Linked DNA regions of Homo sapiens: region 1 is linked to region 2. Evidence: fine-mapped expression QTL. Tissue or cell type: whole blood. Region 2 holds a variant in brackets; the other region holds the start of a gene. All regions are shown on one strand. Distances are from middle to middle.

Region 1 (8,173 bases), 30 kb before region 2:
AAAGAAAGACCACTTATGCCGGGTGCAGTGGTTCATGGCTTAGTCCCAGCACTATGGGAGGCCGAGGCAGGAGGATGGCTTGAGCCCAGGAGTTTGAGACAGGTCTGAACAACATAGCAAGACCCCGTCTCTGCAAAAAATACAAAAATGAGTCAGGCCTGGTGGCGTGTGCCTGTGGTCCTAGCTGCTTGGGAGGCTGAGGTGGGAGGATCACCTGAGCCCAGGGAGGTCGAGGCTGCAATAGGCCGTGATCATGCAGCTGTGCTCTAGCCTAGGTGACACAGTGAGACCCTGTCTCAAAAATAAATAAATAAATAAATAAAATTAAAAACACTGCTTAAAGATGATTACATAAATATTTATTTATTTTTTGAGACCAGGTCTCACTCTGTCACCCAGGCTGGAGTGTAGTGGTGCCATCTCAGTCACTGCAACCTCCACTTCTCAGGCTCAAGGGATCCTCCCACCTCAGCCTCCCAAGTAGATGGGGCCACAGGCACACGCCACTATACCTGGCTAATTTTTGTATTTTTAGTAGATGCAGGGTTTCGCCAGGTTGCCCAGGCTGGTCTTGAAGCCCTGGGCTCAAGCAATCCATCCCCTTCGGCCTCACAAAGTGCTGAAACCATAGGCGTGAGCCACTGCGCCCAGGCTACTTAAATATTTATTTAAAAAACAGACTCTCCAAAACAGCATGCAAGAAAAAGAACACTGGCCACCAATTACTAAAGAGTAAGATGTCCCGGCAAAAATAGGTTCTTCATCTTTTACCATGATGAGGATTATCTTTAAGTTTCTTTTTTATATTCTGGTATGAAAATCAGTTTCATGGATTCATGCTTGTCTTGTTCAGCACTGCGGACAGTAGCCCACAGCAGCTACTCAGTCAATATTTATAGAATGACTGTATTAAATATATACACATAAAGAGATTGGCTAAATATTATTGTATCTAAACACAATGGGATATTATATAGACATTTCAAATGATGCAGAAATGTTTTTCACATAGGAAGATTTTTCATAACCTACTCGATAAAGCAAGTTACAAAATAGTGTATAAAGAAGACACATTTTCTCCTTCTTCTCTGTCTAGTTCTGTCTCTCTCATATACAATTTTTTTTTTTTGGAAACGGAGTCTTGCTCTGTCACCCAGGCTGGGGTGCTGTGGTGCCATCTCAGCTCACTGCAACCTCCACCTCCCGGGTTCAAGAGATTCTCCTGCTTCAGCCTCCTGAGTAGCTGGGACCATAGGCACCCGCCACCATGCCCAGCTAATTTTTGTATTTTTAGTAGAGACAGGGTTTCACCATATTGGCCAGGCTGGTCTCAAACTCCTGATCTTGTCATCTGCCCACCTCAGCCTCCCAAAGATTACAGGTGTGAGCCACCGCACCCGGCTGATACACAATTTTTAAAACTCTGTTCATAAGTTTGACAAACAGGAGCTAATGAAAACCACTGCAGTATTCGATGATTATGACACGTCTCCTACTTTACGTTTAAGATGTCGGAAAAGGGCCCGGCGCGGTGGCTCGCACCTGTAACCTCAGCCCTTTGGGAGGCCAAGGCAGGCGGTTCACCTGAGGTCAGGAGTTTGAGACCAGCCCAGCCAACATGGTGAAACCCACCTCTACTAAAAATACAAAAATTAGCCGGGTGTGGTGGTGAGTGCCTGTAATCCCAGCTACTCGGGAGGCTGAGGCAGGAGTATTGTTCGAATCCGTGAGGTGGACGTTGCGGTGAGCCAAGATCATGCCACTGCACTCCAGCCTGGGTGACAAGAGCAAAACTCTGTCACAAAAAAAAAAAAAAAAAAAAAAAGGATGTGGGAAAAGAAAGAAAAAACATTTTTTTCTAATGTCAATTAGTTAATTAATTTTATTTTATTTATTTATTTTTGAGACGGAGTCTCGCCCTGGCGCCCAGGCTGCAGTGCAGTGGCACAATCTCAGTTCACTAAAACCTTCACCTCCCAGGCTCAAGCGATTCTCCTGCCTCAGTTTCTTGAGTAGCTGGGATTACAGATGTCCGCCACCATGCCCAGGCAATATTTCTATTTTTTTGTAGAGACAAGGTTTCACCATGTTGGCCAGGCTGGTCTCGAACTCCTGGCCTCAAGCGATCTGCCCACCCCAGCTTCCAAAGTGCTGGGATTACAGGAGTGAGCCACCGCACCCAACTTGCCAATTAGTTTACTTTTGCTTCAGAGTTGCAGAGGTCATCATCAGCCCCAGTGTCCCTGGTCTCTCATGGATGGTGACCACACAAATTTGTATCATCTGGCCCGTTTCTTCAGCCTATCCCTGGCATGTTCTGGCACGGGTCTATCTCAAGAAGCCATCTGCTTAATATTCAAATCAAAATGAAAACAGCTCAGAGACAGTACACTACTCGGTACCAGTCAGTGTGGACATCCCAAGGGTCTAGTAAGCACTCACGTTTCTCAAAGTTAATGTCATCAAGTTTTAAATTATACAAAACATGCCTGCCACGAAGCAATGAAGTTCCTAGCAAAAGTCACACAATAACTCAGAACTTCAAAGTGAATCCTAGGCCAGGCACGGTGGCTCACGTCTGTAATCCCAGCACTTTGGGAGGAACAGGTGGATCATGAGGTCAGGAGTTCAAGATCAGCCTGGCCAAGATGGTGAAACCCCGCCTCTACTAAAACTACAAAAATTAGCTGGGCATGGTGGCAGGCGCCTGTAATCCCAGCTACTCGGGAGGCTGAGGCAAGAGAATCGCTTGAACCCCAGTGGCAGAGGTTGCTGTGATCTGAGATTAGGCCACTGCACTCCAGCCTGGGCGGCAGAGCGAGACTCCGTCTCAAAAAAAAAAAAAAAAAAAAAAAATGAATCCATGCACATGTATTTTACTTTCAGTCTGAAAACGTATCTAACCTTGCATCACAAAGTAATAACCCCCAGATTGCTGGTCTGTAGTGCAACAGAAGTAAACACTGAAAACACTTAAATATTTCCATCTGGAAACAGTAAATTAAACCTTCTATTTACCTGTGGTGACAGCTTCTCAGTTCTGAGCTTGTCTTGCCACAAACTGTTGAGTCCACAGAGCAGACAGGGCCCTGAGCTTCAGCCTGGCAGTAAGAAGGTGAAGGAGGAAGTGATTACGGTTGTTCTCTGGATGCCCCCCAACTCTTCACCTTGGAAGAGGAAAGTCATGCTGACCCTGCCCCGCAACGACACGGGTGTCGCAGGGTCCTTCCCAGGAAAATCCCGTGTCCTTGCCCTGACCCAGTTCCCCAAGGCACCCTTATCCCAAGGAGGCTGGGAGAGGAGGGGCCTCCCTGGTTTCCTGGCAGGGGTCGGCTGAGGCTGACGTGGGCGTGCAGCCCCGGAGGTCCCACGAAGCCCAGGCCATTGGACAACTGTGGGTTTTTCTTGGAAAGAATCCTGACACTTGGAGCACACTTCCTCTCTTTTAACTTTTAAAAAAGACTTCAGAAAAGCACAGGCGTGCAGTTGTGCCCGGTTGGGGTGCGTGAGGGGGCAGGGCCGACCCTCCTGACTTCCACTGGCACCACCCCGCGCCCCTCCAGCTTCACCCGCACCACGCGGGCCGCGCAGCCCGGGACTCCGGAAAGACCTGGGCGCCCGACCCTCAGCGGCCCCGACCGGGAGCGACGTGGCGCGGCTTCCGCAGAGAAGCCACCCGGCCCAGCGCAGCCTGTCCGGGGTCGCCCCGCCGCGTTGGGGCACAAAGTGGGAACCGTTCCTCAAAGGTGGTCGCAGCTGGAGGAACAAACACGCGCGTCTCCGTCCGACGGCAGAAGCCGGGCGCACCCACCCAGGGTCGGTCTGTCCGGGGCCCGGGTTTCCTCGCCTCGGAGATCCCTGGAGGTCTCGGAAAGCACCTTCTGAGTCGGCGACGCCCCAGCTCCGCTGCGCCGAGGAAAGGGCAAGTCCCGATGTCCCCGCCCGTGGGCCCTCCCTCCGAGGGGACAACCCGAAGACCCAGAGTCGCTGCGGTCCCCAGACCCGACCTCCGCGCAGCGCCAAACCCCAGGGACAGCCGCGGACTCGGGTTCCGGGCAGGCCCCCAGCGCTAGGAGGGAGGCCGAGCTGGGCCCCGAGATCCCTCGCAAGAGTCCTCGGTGTGTGTCCTCGCTCCTCGCCCTCAGGTCCCCAGCCGCGCACCCCGGGCCCCCGGGTCCCCGGGACCCGGAGACCCCGAGACCCCGGGCCCCGCGCATGCGCCGCCCAGCCCCTGCCCCTCCCCCGTCCGCCGCCCTCCGGGTCCCGGGACCTGGGAAGCCCGGACCGCGGACCCCCGCGCGCGTTCCCGCCCGCCCGCCCGCCCGCCCCCGGGCACCTGGGCCGCGGTCCGCCGCCTGCCGGTCCGTGGGGCGAACGCCGAAGGAGGCGGCGCCGGGCAGGGCGCTAGCGGCCGCCTCCGCCCCCGCCGCCCGCTGCCCCCGCCGCGGGGCCGCCGCGTCCACGGCCCATGCCCGGCGCCGCCTCCGCGCGTCCGTGCCAGCCGCGCCCCCGCGACACGCACCGCCCCTCGGCCCGCCCCCTGCCCCGGTCCGCGCGAGCCAGTGTCCCGAGGCCCGACCCGGAAGCCCCGCCCGCCCCGCGCGCCCTCCGGGCCCCGGGCCTCGGCCCCGGGACACACCCCCCGGAGGGCGGCGCCCGATTGGCTGCTCGCGGTGGGCGGGGCCCCGGGAGCGCTCAGCGGCTCCCACCTAGCGCCCCGCGGCCGCTGCAGCCAAGGGAAACTGAGGCCGGAGAGGTGGAGGGACCGTCCAAGGTCACCGATGGGACACCGCTGAGCGTCAGCGCCCCTCCAGCCCGGCGCACCGGGGCGGGGCTGAATTCGAGGCGGGGACGCGCGGCCGCGGGGCGGGTGGAGGTTCCCGCCGGGCGCCCGTGCCACGCTGGCGAGCCCCTCCTGCCTCCTCGATGAGCCCGGCTCTGCTACTCTGTGCGATGAGCCGGTCTAGACCCGGGACCCGGGACCGGGTGCCCTTGAGGCTCAGAAGTGCGTAGGGTGGGAGGCGGCCCGGGAGGGACCTTGTCCCTGGAACCCCAGGATGCAAAATAAGGAGAAGGGGAAGGCGAGCTGGGAGGACAAGGAAACAGGTGGCGGGAGGTGCCAGGGCGGTGTGGTGGGCGGGGGAACGAGGAGGGTGAAGGGCAACGCGGACGGGCTCGGGGAGGCGCCGCCAGCTCCGACCCCACAACCCCACCCCTCTCCAGCGGCCCAAGAGCCATGCCCGCCCCTACTTCATGCGCTGGGGGGTGAGGGGCTGACTTTGTGCCTACGCAAGGCGCTGGGACTCTGCCAGAGCAAGGAGAGGTCGCGGCCCGGTGGCCAATGGCGAGGAGTAGGAGAGCGCCCTGCAAAGCCGCTTTGTTCGGGCCGTGACGCTCGAGCTGCCGGAGCGGAATGCACAAAGCCCCTGGGTGCCGGCACATCAGGGCTCCCCTCCTCGGGAACGCAATGTGTGCTATGCCCGCTCCACTGCCTGCCCTCCGCTGCCAGCTGTGCCTGCCACTGTGCTATTTGTGGCAGCGGGCGCCCAGGAGGACCCACTCCGGAAAGCAAACCCAGATCTCATTAGGCAGGGGAACTGGAGATCAGGCGGGAACTGGCCCTTTCACAAACTTCTCTTAAACTCACCCTTGTTGATTAGCCAGGCACCTATGGTGAACTTTGCCCCACCCTCCAGACACCCACATATCCTTCCCACTGGCACACGGCAACCTCACCTTCTCTTGCACATGTTAGCCAGCAATAGCTATCATTTATGTTGTTTCAGAGTTTATAGGGTGACCTGTACACGTAATATCCTGCATATCTCGTGGGGTGTGCAGGCAGCCACATCCAAGCTTGTCATCCTGTTGTGTTTGGTGAGGGAAGCTGACCCTGGGCTGCCCACGCAGAGCTCAGGGGCTACATCCTCATGAGGACCTCCGGGCTCAAAGACATTACCTGGCATACCCATATCCCAGACTCTCAAGGACCAGGGTCCACACAGGTGTGTGACCCAGATGCACCACCCAGGTCAACCAGGTGTTGAAAGACCTAGTGAACATTCTCATGAACAAGGACAAAGGCTATGTGGGGGTGTGCAGAGTGGTCACGTACACTCAGCAGACATAGGAAAGTGATATTCTTGGGTTTTTTGGGGCTCCCAAGGTTTTAGGGAGAGAAAACTTGTTTTTCATCCATGTGTCCCAGAAATAAGCATTTTCAATCAAATGCTGTCAGCCAGTCTCCCGCAGGCGTCCTGAGGGTAGAAGCAAGTTCAGGACTCTTCTCTTGGGAGTATCCTGGCCAGAAACAGCCCCATATCCATGCTTCCCGGGGGTGGTAGGTTTCTTCTGGGAAACCACGCTCAGATGAGAGAGATGAAGCAATTTTCTGTTGGCCACGAAGACCTTGTCACACACCCAGCATGGGAGCAACTGTCACAAAGGGCACACCCTCACCCCCATTCCCAGCTCCAGGAAGTCTCTCTTTACCTTCTTCAGTGCTGATGAAATGAGGGCCACACGACAGAACAGAAACACCGCTGGCGCAGGGACTGAGTAGAAATCTGTAACTTTGAGGACAAATCAGTGCTCCTGAAAATGTCTCTGAGCACCACCTGAGTTTCCTCTCTGGCGCCTTAGTGACTACTGGGAGCATCTGGTGCATATGGATCTTAGTTCATAGCTACCATTTATGTGGTGACAATGCTGTCTCAGGTCCCTTTTTACATTTTCTGATCCGGAAGATGTTCTGAGGGTAATTATTACTGTGCCCACATTGCAAGATGGAGACTGAGGCACAGAGAAGCCCCATCTGCACTGGGTCCCCCAGGCCAGCGGCAGGGCGCAGGACGGAAGGCAGGTCTGTAAAGCCCACGTCTGCCCTGCTGAGCTGCTCTCTCCTGCAAGTGCTGACCTGCCAGCCAGCCAGAGAAGCCGAGGCTCTCCCACAGCCTCAGGGAAAGAATTGGGAAGCTGGGAATTCAGACGGGAAGGGGTTGCTGGAGGAGGCAACCTGGAGTGATAGGGCTTGGCCGCTCAGTACAGGGCAGCAGTTAGACCCTGAGTGCTGGGAGCAGGTGATGACGGTCATCTGTGTTCAGGGACCCCAGTGCTTTCCCTGACCCTGCCAGGGTGAAGCTTCTCCTATGGGCCTGGGGTCCAGGCTGGAGTCTGTTTGCCAGCCAGGGCCTGCGAAGTTTGCTGCTGGCTTGCCCTCTGCTGATGTGCAAAGCTCTCTGTCAAGGGGGAGTGTGTGCTTCCAGGGTGTCATCCGCCAGGGCAGTGGCCTCTGAGCTCCTGGAAGCGTGCCTGCAGGTCAGGTGGTGGAAGTCCACCGGGGCAGGGGCCGTGGGCTGAGAAAGGGAGGGCTCACTGGCAGCGAGCAGGCGGCTGCTTGGCGACCCAAGGCTGGACCTCGTCGGTGAGGGCCAACCATGGGCATGTCCTTAGTTGCCATCCTGGTACTGACAGCAAAACCCCATGGGTCCAAGGTAACAAAGTATTGTCATACTAGGGGACAGAATCTACAAGAGTCCCACAAGGCAGCTGTGCTTATGCTCATCTTACAGATGAGGAACGAAGGGCCAGGAATGGCAGCATGTGGCCAAGGTCCCCGGCAGGGAGTGAGAACTCTCCCGAGTCCCAGTCCATCAGCACCTGGCCCTGGGTACCCCCGGGGTTCGGTTGTCTGTTGCAGAAGCTGTCTGTTGGCTGATACGGCAGCCTCTGGCAGACTCAGGAGCCCAGGGTCAAGGATCAGATTTCCCTGGTGGCTGCTCCTGGCCCCACAGCTCCAGGGGGGTGGCAGCAGCATGTGCAGAAGCCTGTGGCAGGAGACATTCAAGGGGAGAGAGTGTGGAGATGGCACAAAGCGGGCAGAGCTGGGCAAGGCCCTGGCCAGGCAGGTCTTGCAGCCCAGTGAGGAGTTTAACTTTGGTCCTAAGGGCTGTGGGACACCTGCCATGGAGGGTTGTCAGCAGAGGCATGACTCCATCTGATTAGCACCAAGTGCTGCATGCTACATGTTAACCAGTGGTCACAGCTGAGGTGGTGGGGAGGGGCTTAAGCTGTGCACCCATTCTAGCTTTGCAGGATCTGGAAGCTTCCGCAGGTCCAGAAACTGCTGCTGTCATGACACTGTACCCTTTGAAAATTAACCAGTCCCCAGCTT
Region 2 (8,173 bases):
CTGGGTGTGCCTGTTTGTGCAAGTGTGTCGGGGCCTCGGGCGCTCCTGACGGGCATCTTCTAGGCTGTGGGACCTTGGGAAGGTTTCTCTGCCTCCCTTCACCTCAGTTTCCTCATCATTAAGTTGGGGAGGTCAGATGTCACAGTCTGTGAGGCAGCCCTGCATAACACCAGGCCTGGTGTTGGTGTGAGCAGAAGCTGGCAGGTGGGATGGGGTGACAGGATGGAAGGCCCAGGGCAGTGGCGAGCCAAGGACGGGGCCAGCAGGAGGTTGTCTGAGGCGAGGACCTCCCGGGAGCAGCGGCCAGATGCCCTGTCCTCCAGGGTGGCAGGGGAAGGCTGCAGGGAGAGGGTTGTCCCTGAGAGGGAGCCCCTCAGCGCTAGGGGAGATCAAGCTGAGGCTGTGAGCCAGGTTGGGGAGGGCTCCTGCCATCCAGTCCCTCTGGCTCCAGCAGTTTGGTGTCTCTGGCCAGTAGACCCTGTCCGGGACTGGGCCCTGCGCTGGGCAGGACAGCAGTGGCCTTGGCCTTGACCTTGACCACTTCAGGACCACCTCCCCCAGGCCCAGTGAGACGGCCCCGCCCATCACCTCCAGACAAGGCTGCCCTGGCTGGGATTCGGCCCAGGACATCAGGGTCAGAACAGAGCAGCAGAGCCCACTAGGCCCGGCCGCAACTCCCAGCCCACTCCCCTGCCTGCCATCAGGCTCCCGCTGTGCCAGCCAGCAGCCACCCTGCCCACTGCTGATGGGGCAATCTCACCCTTGGGCCACCTGCCCCTCACTGAGGCATGGGTCGGTCCAGCTGGGAGAGCTGGTGGTTCCCCTGCCCTTGGGAACCCAGCTCCCACCAGCTGCCAGGGCCTCCTGCCCACCCTCCCACAGCCGTTCCCACACCCCGGCCCTCCCTGCTGCTGTCTGCCCCTGATCTCCCCGAGACTCTCTTGAGGATGTCTCCCCGAGGTTGGAGACTTGCCCAGGGTCACCCAGCCGTCACCATGCTGGGCGCAACAGGCAACAGTGTTTACTGCCTCGCACTCCTATGGCTGGCCCAAGGGAAGGGGGGAGCAGGGAAGGCCCCTGTCTCTGGGGGACACCACGGTGTGACCTGGACTCATGTCTCTGGGTCTCGTGTCCTCATCTAGAGCACAAGGATGGGAGATTGGACCTCGGTCTCTCCTGGGATGAGATGGGATCATGTGAGTCACCTAGAGATGCCTCCTGCCACCCGGCAAGTGCCAGACCACGGGGCTTCCTCTTTGTTCCTGTCTCTTGCCATTTCATCTGCTAGGTGTGACCTCGGGCCACACGACCTTCTGCAGCCGGGCATGGGGCAGCACCCTCCGCTCTGCAGGCGGCCCTGGTGGGGATACCCTGTGTGCAGGGGCTGGCACCACCGTTGGGGCAGTGGGAGCAGAGGGCGGTGCTGACAGGAGGGGGATGTGCTGGGCCTCCTGGCCTGGCCTGTGGCCAGCCTCACCCACCCACAGAAGGGGTGGGATTATTACCTGTTTTACATATGGGGAAACTGAGGCTGGGAGAGGCAGAGGATAGCAGAGCCCAGGGCTAAGTGGAAGCGAGAACAGAGGGAGGTGGGGTGAGACCCCAGCCTGGCAGAACTCCTGCAACCCCACTGGAGGGGTGAGGGGCTGGCCTCCTACACACCCCTCCACCCACAGCCCCCAGCCGTACCCAGCTCTGTGCCCGCCCGGGGGGGATATGGCTGTCCGAGCCGGAGATGCCCCCCTGCGATGGTGGCCAGGCCGGTGCTGGAAACACTGCGCACCCACCCCACCACCTCTGTGCTCTTGACCCGAGGGCCGCTCAGCCTCGGGCCGGTGTGGGGACGGCCAGGCCTCCCGGACACTGATTCTTCAGCGGGGCGGTGTCCACGCGGCCGCCCCTTCCCAGCCCCACGTGCTTCATTGGGCACCAGGCGCCACCTGGTGGTCAAGCCAGAAGCCGCCGCTACCAGAACCGTGTGGAAAGCATCCCCAGACCCTCAATGTCCTCCTGTAAGCTTGGGGAAACTGAGGCCAGGGAGGGGTAGGAGCTCCCCAGGTCCCTCAGATAGGCAGGGCCTGGAGTAGGGGCAGAGGTCAGGGCTCCTGACGCCTGTCCAGCGCCTGCAGCTGGGCTTAAGTGACTTAGGAGATGTGGGGGCCTGGCCATGCAAGGACGGAGGACTGAGCCCAGCGCCTGAGGTTCGGTGCACCTGCCCTGGCCACGCCAAGGCCTGGGAGCCATGAGCACTGGCAAGTCCCGCCTGCTTCCCCAGCATGGGTCCCAGGGCCCATGTTCGGCAGCATCTTTGTAGGAGACAGTGGCCTCACTCTTGATAGCAAGGAAATGAGACCAGGTCTGGGGTTCACACCTAGGAGCCAGGCCCTGCCCAGGCCCAAGGCCCAGCTCGCTGGGGAAAGGGGGACCCCACAATGGCCCAGAGCTTTGCCTAGAGCGGCAGCACCAACGACCACGTGTCAGCGCCTGTCCTCGGAGCTCCCAGCCCTGAGCCAGCCTCATGGAGCAGCTCAGAGCACTGCCCAGCTCTAAGTCCTGTCCCAGGCCTGGCTGCTGTTCCCTCTGCTGCTCCTGAGCCCGCTGAGTCCCATGGGGGTAGATTGTGAGGTGTGCTCTCTGACTCTGAGGGCCCCAGGCGAGACAGTAAGAAAGCCAGGCCTCTCTTTGGAAGCCCCTAGGGCAGGGTGGGCAGGGAGGGTGGGGGTACTGGCAGCTACTGAGTCTGGTGTCGCAGGGTGGGTCTAGGTGGCTCCCCTGGCAGCAAAGGCCTGGCCTCCAGCCCTCAAGGTCAGTCCCTGGGGCACCTCACAAATGACAGGTCCTAAACCTCGCCTGCTCAGACCTCTCCCCAGCCTGGCTCCTCTGTCCCAGTGGCCATCCACCCACCCACCTAGAGAGACCTGGGCCTCCCTGCCACCCCTGCCTCTGCCCCAGCTGGTCCCCAGGTCCCAGCAATGTCACCCTTCAATAGCTTCTCAAACCTGACACCTCCAACACTCCCTGGTCATTACTGTCATCTGAGCACATCCTTTGGCCTGAGCCCTGGCAGCCACCCTCTCAGAGCTCTATACCCCCACAAACACCTCTCCCTTCATGGTGGCCAATGCAGGGTTGCCAGGCCGGGCTGCACCCCTGTGTTGGCTCCTGCACTGTGGGACAGCCACTGGTCTGACGTAAAAAGCCAGAGCTGGTACAGTCAGGCTAGCCTGGGAAACTGTGGGTAAACCAAGTCACACGGACCTGTTTCCTCCCTGCAGGCCTTGTCAGAGCCTTCAATAGGCTCACCACAGCGTGACTCCAAGAGGGCATCGTGAGCAGCAACTGTGGATCATCTGTCCAGGAAACGTGCCATCCAAGAGCATTTCCCAGGCCCTTGAGAGAGACAGCCAGCCAGCTACCTCCTCAGCCTGGGTCCCCAGGGTCCCCTGGGGGCTTCCCCCCACTGCTGGCCTGCCCTGCAGCCCCCTCTGCCACTTTCCCCATGGTGCTAGGCTCCACCCTATTCAACTTGACTGAGTCCTCACTCTAACCTGTTTGTTCATTCAGTGGGCATTTTTTTTTTGAGATGGCATCTCTCTCTGTTGCCAGGCTGGATGGAGTGCAGTGGCATGATCTCACCTCACTGCAACCTCCACATCCCGGGCTCATGTGATTCTCTTGCCTCAGCCTCCTGAGTAGCTGGGATTATAGGCGCCCGCCACCAAGCCCGGTTAATTTTTGTATTTTTAGTAGAGACGGGGTTTCACTATGTTGGCCAGGCTGGTCTTGAACTCCTGACCTCAGGTGATCCGCCCGCCTTGACCTCCCAAAGTGCTGGGATTACAGGTGTGAGCCACTGTGCCTGGCCTCAGTGGGCACTGATTGACCATCTATTGTGTGCTGGGTGCTGGACTAGGTGCTGAGAAGACACGCTTGCTGGAGCTCACAGCCTAGTGAACGGGGCACATGGGGCAGGGCTCACACAGGCAGACACAGAATGTACCAGGGAGGGCGGAGGAAGGGGAAGCGGCCTTGGCAGGCGAGACCTGACACATGACCGGCCCTGGGTGTCCACCTGCGGGCATCTGCATCAGCTCTGGGACTGTGAGGGTCAGGACAAATCAAAACCCCCTTCATAATCACGTCTGAGCACAGACCACAGCATGAACACCATCCAAGCCACAGAATGTCCAGCCTCTCCTGGCCCAGGCAGCAGGGGGACTGCAGCCACGTCAGCAATCGCAGCTCCAGCCTCGCTCTGGGCTCCCTGCCCTGGAGACAGGGCTTGTGAAGATCGCTGATCGGAGGACGATCCTGCGTCCTGAGAGCATCCAACCCAGAGCCCCGCCTCCTCAGACTCCTCCCCATCCCGCAGCACAGCCCCAAACACCCCATCACAGACACCCCCGGATCCCCAGATCCCACAGCGTGCATTCTCCCTCGTGGCAAAGGACACTGGGCCGCCTGCGTTGCCACAGGAACTCACTCCTCCGTGGGCTGAGGGCATTGGCAGCTGATGGAGAAGATCAAAGTGGGTGAGGGGAGCGGCTGGTCTCCTCCCTCACTGCCACCCACTGCCCCCTGCCTCCGCCTGCTGATGGCCTGGGGTCAGGCGCAGCCCTGTGTGTCTAGGGGAGGAGGCCAGACTGCGGGGTGCTGAGCAGGCTGGGTCTTGTCTCATCTCAGGACGTTGGTCTGCTTGGCCTGCCCTGGCTGGCATTTGCAGGGCACTTGCCTGCTGCCCCCTGGACCTCGTGGTACCCATGAGAGCCAGGTCTCCTTGTCTTCAGCCTGGATAAGGACACAGAGAGGGTAAGGGCCTCGCCCTGGGCCATGGGATTGGTTCACGGCTGGCTGCCACCTTTCTGCTGGGTGGTTTCTGCAGCCTGTGTTCCTTCTGCCACCCCGAGGCCCCTCTGTCATGTATTAGGGCTGCAGGGGGCAATCACTCGAGGGCTGGGCTTCCTGCTGTTAGCTGGCCTCTC[C/T]GGTGCCCGCACTCAGCCTGCCCCTGGCTGGGCACTGGAGGGTGCCTCCCCCCGGAGGTGACCCCAGGCCATATGAGCTCTACTGCTGGGCCTGCGGGGTGCTACCCAAAGCCTCAACTCCTCTGGCCTGGCAGGGGCGGTGGACAACCTGGCTGGGCCCTTCCTGGACTCCTGGGCTCACCATGACCTCTGTGGACACAGCTTGGCCTTCTTCACTCGGGGACCAGCCATCCCTCCCCACCCGGCACCCCGAATGCTCTGACAGGCTCTGTTAACTCCTTCCTTGACCCTGGAATGCACCTCCCGTGAGTCTGCCCAGGTGAACCCCTCCCACACTCACCCCAGGCCTAGCACCAGCCACAACTCTTCCCCTGCCCTCCCCTGCTGCCTCCCCTCCCCCTTTCTTCCTTCCTCTGGAGGCCACCCCTCCCCTGCTGCCTCCCTGGGTTTCCCCCTTCTCTTCCCTTGCTGTCCCCCAGCATCTGCCTTCAAATCCTTCCCCACCACACCCAGACCCCCCAGGCCAGCTGCTCCATAGGATATGACAACTGTATTACTTATTTATTTATTTGTTGAGACAGGGTCTCACTCTTGTCACCCAGGCTGGAGTGCAGTGGCACGATCTGGGCTCACTGCAGTCTTGACCTCCCAAGGCTCAGGTGATCCTCCCACTTCAGCCTCTCGAGTAGCTGGGACCACAGGCGTGAGCCACCAAACTCAGTTAATTTTTGTATTTTTTTGTAGAGATGGGATTTTGCCATGTTGTCCAGGCTGGTCTTGAACTCCTGGGCTCAAGCGCTGTGCCTGCCTCAGCCTCCCAGAGTGCTGGGATTACAGGTGGGAGCCACAGCGCCTGCCTGGATATGGTATCTTTACTCGGGGCCAGGACTTGTGTGGGGCTGACCCAGGAAATGGGCAGAAGCCCTGGAGGCTGAGCGGGAGGAAGGAGGGTGGATGGGCTTGGCGAGAGAGGCTGTTGGGTCTGTGATGTAGAGGGAAGGGGAGAGGGGTAGAAGAGGGGAGAGAAGAGGGGAGGGACGGGGTGAGGCCTTCTTGAGGAAGGGCTGCTCTTCTCTGTTTTATTTCCGGGGACTGCAGGAGGGCCAGTATGTCTTGCTTGCCTGTCCAGGCAGTGCTGCCTGCCTGGGGCTTGGCTGGAGACAAAGCCTGGATGCCCAGGATTTGAGAGGGGTGAAAGTTGGCATCCGGGCCCACCAAGGACAGGCCCGCCATGTTTGAACCCAGGTCAAGTCTGAGGGGGGAGCGCATTCCTTCTGGGGAGGCCGGACAGCGGTGTGCAGGTGGCTGCTTTTCTCCTGCATGAGGACCTTCAGGGACAAGGCTGGAAGCGAGGTACCTGGCAGGGCCCTGGGCCTGGCCCAGTTCCTTGGCCCCAGGGAAGGGACCCCAGAACACAACCTGTTGTCCCCTATGCCACCATTACTCTCCCAACCCCAGGCAGCCTGGAAGGCAAGACAGCCACAGATCATGGGGTGGACAGAGCTGGCCGCCCATTCCAGCTGTACCCGGCCTGCTGTGTGGCCTTGGGAAAGTCACTCTACCTCTCTGAGCCTCTGTCTCCACATTCATGAAATGGGCTGAGGATGGCGGCCCTCTGGGGACTGTCAGGAAGCAGATCAGGCCCTGGATGTCACCAATGCAGCACCAGAGGGGCCGACACACCAGCATTTACAGCAACTGTCTGGGTCCTGCTCCCAGCCCTGGGGAAGCTGCTCCCAATCAGAGAAACCAAGCTACCCATATAGACTCACAGCAGCTCTCACACTGGGCAGCCCTGAAGGCTGTGGGAGCCTTGGAAGGGTGAGGGTGGTATAGGGCACTGGCTGGCATAAGTGTGGATGCTGAACTTGGGCCACCAGGCAGGACGCATGCAGGGAGGCCAACACAAGGCACCTGGCAGCACCACCTGCCCTCAGGCTCAGCAACAGCTGGGGCCGGGGTAGGAGCTGAGTCCCTTGAGCAAGCCAGACCTGAAAGCCTTCCCCTTCCTGGTCCACCTCAGCTCCCCAGTTGTCCGATATCTGAGATGTGCGACCTGGCTGGTGCCACCTCCCTTCTTGTTCTAGAAAGAGGCTGAACTCAGAATGGGACAGTGACCAGCCATGTTCACCCAGCTGGCACAGGGATGCCCCCAGGCCTCATCAGACCTGACCCCTCCGACCCTGCCTGTTTCAGGAGGCAACGTCAGAGGAGCCCATTTCACTAAATGCCACTGTGTGGGTATGAGTCTGTGCCAGGGGCTTAGCCCTAGGGCCTGACCTCCCTCCTTGGCATCTGAGGCCCTTCACTGGGGCTCCAGCCTCCCCCCAGGCTCTGGGGAGGCTCAGCTCAGGGCTCAAACATGGCAGGCCTGTCCTTGGTGGGCCCAGATGCCAACTTTCAGGCTCAGCCACTCCGCCCGCCTCCCATGTGTGGACCTTCACTGTGCCACCTCTTCTGCCTGGGGCCACCTGAACTCCCGGCCTTCAGATAACCCAGCTCCGGAGTCTTCCCAGGCTCAGGGTGGCCTCCCTTCCTGCTGGTGGCAGTGCCTGGAGACAGATGTGGCTCTCAACTCAGCGCTGTTGGGGACGGGGGTGCTCCCTCTGGCTCACCCCCAACAGTTTTGCCAGATGCCGTTGGGGGCAGTGATGCTGACAGCTCCTTGGTGGTGAGCGGGGCGTAGGTGGGCGGGAGGCTGCCAGGCATGTCGCTGGCTCGGGACGATGGCCGGCGGTCCCGGCACGTGGCTGTGATGGGTACAGAGGCCCCCACACCTCCCCCGCAAACACACACACGCCAGGAGAGCGGGAAGCGCCCTGGGGTCCCTCCCCAGGATTGTCCTCAAACCCGAGGCTTCCACAGCCCAGAAGGGGTCACCCTATTCACAGCTTTGGCCTCGGAGGTGGGGGGGGGGTGCAGGCGGGGCTGGCCTCGGAGGTGGGGGCTGCTGCCACACGGTGTCGCTGTCGGGAAATGCACAGTCCGAAGGCGGGGGTGGCTGGCGGGCAGTGGCCCAGGCTGCCCAGGCGGGGCGGATGGTGGGGGAAGCAGGGCAGGGTGAGGGATCGCAGGCATTGAAGGAGGCACTGACCTCCCGGGGCAGGGCTCTCTATGGCTTCCCTGGCAGGGCATGTGGCCCTCCTGGGCCCTTCCTCCACAATTCACAACAAAATCACAAACCGCACCCA

What was found. PIP is the estimated chance that this variant, and not a neighbour inherited with it, causes the effect.
Region 1: PPARA starts here. The variant in region 2 is fine-mapped to the expression of PPARA in whole blood (TOPMed, PIP above 0.99).

The regions. Positions count from the first base shown.
Region 1 is chr22:46,146,816-46,154,988 of GRCh38, reverse strand. It overlaps PPARA (peroxisome proliferator activated receptor alpha), which reads right to left and starts at 4,463. Exons shown (of 9, transcript NM_005036.6): 1 at 4,337-4,463; 2 at 3,019-3,101. RefSeq lists an enhancer at 3,723-3,912 and silencers at 4,123-4,242, 4,393-5,002.
Region 2 is chr22:46,116,379-46,124,551 of GRCh38, reverse strand. No RefSeq gene overlaps it. Among named protein-coding and RNA genes, the nearest start is that of MIRLET7B, 6.8 kb to the right of the region's middle. The variant C/T (reference allele first, on the strand shown) is at 4,983.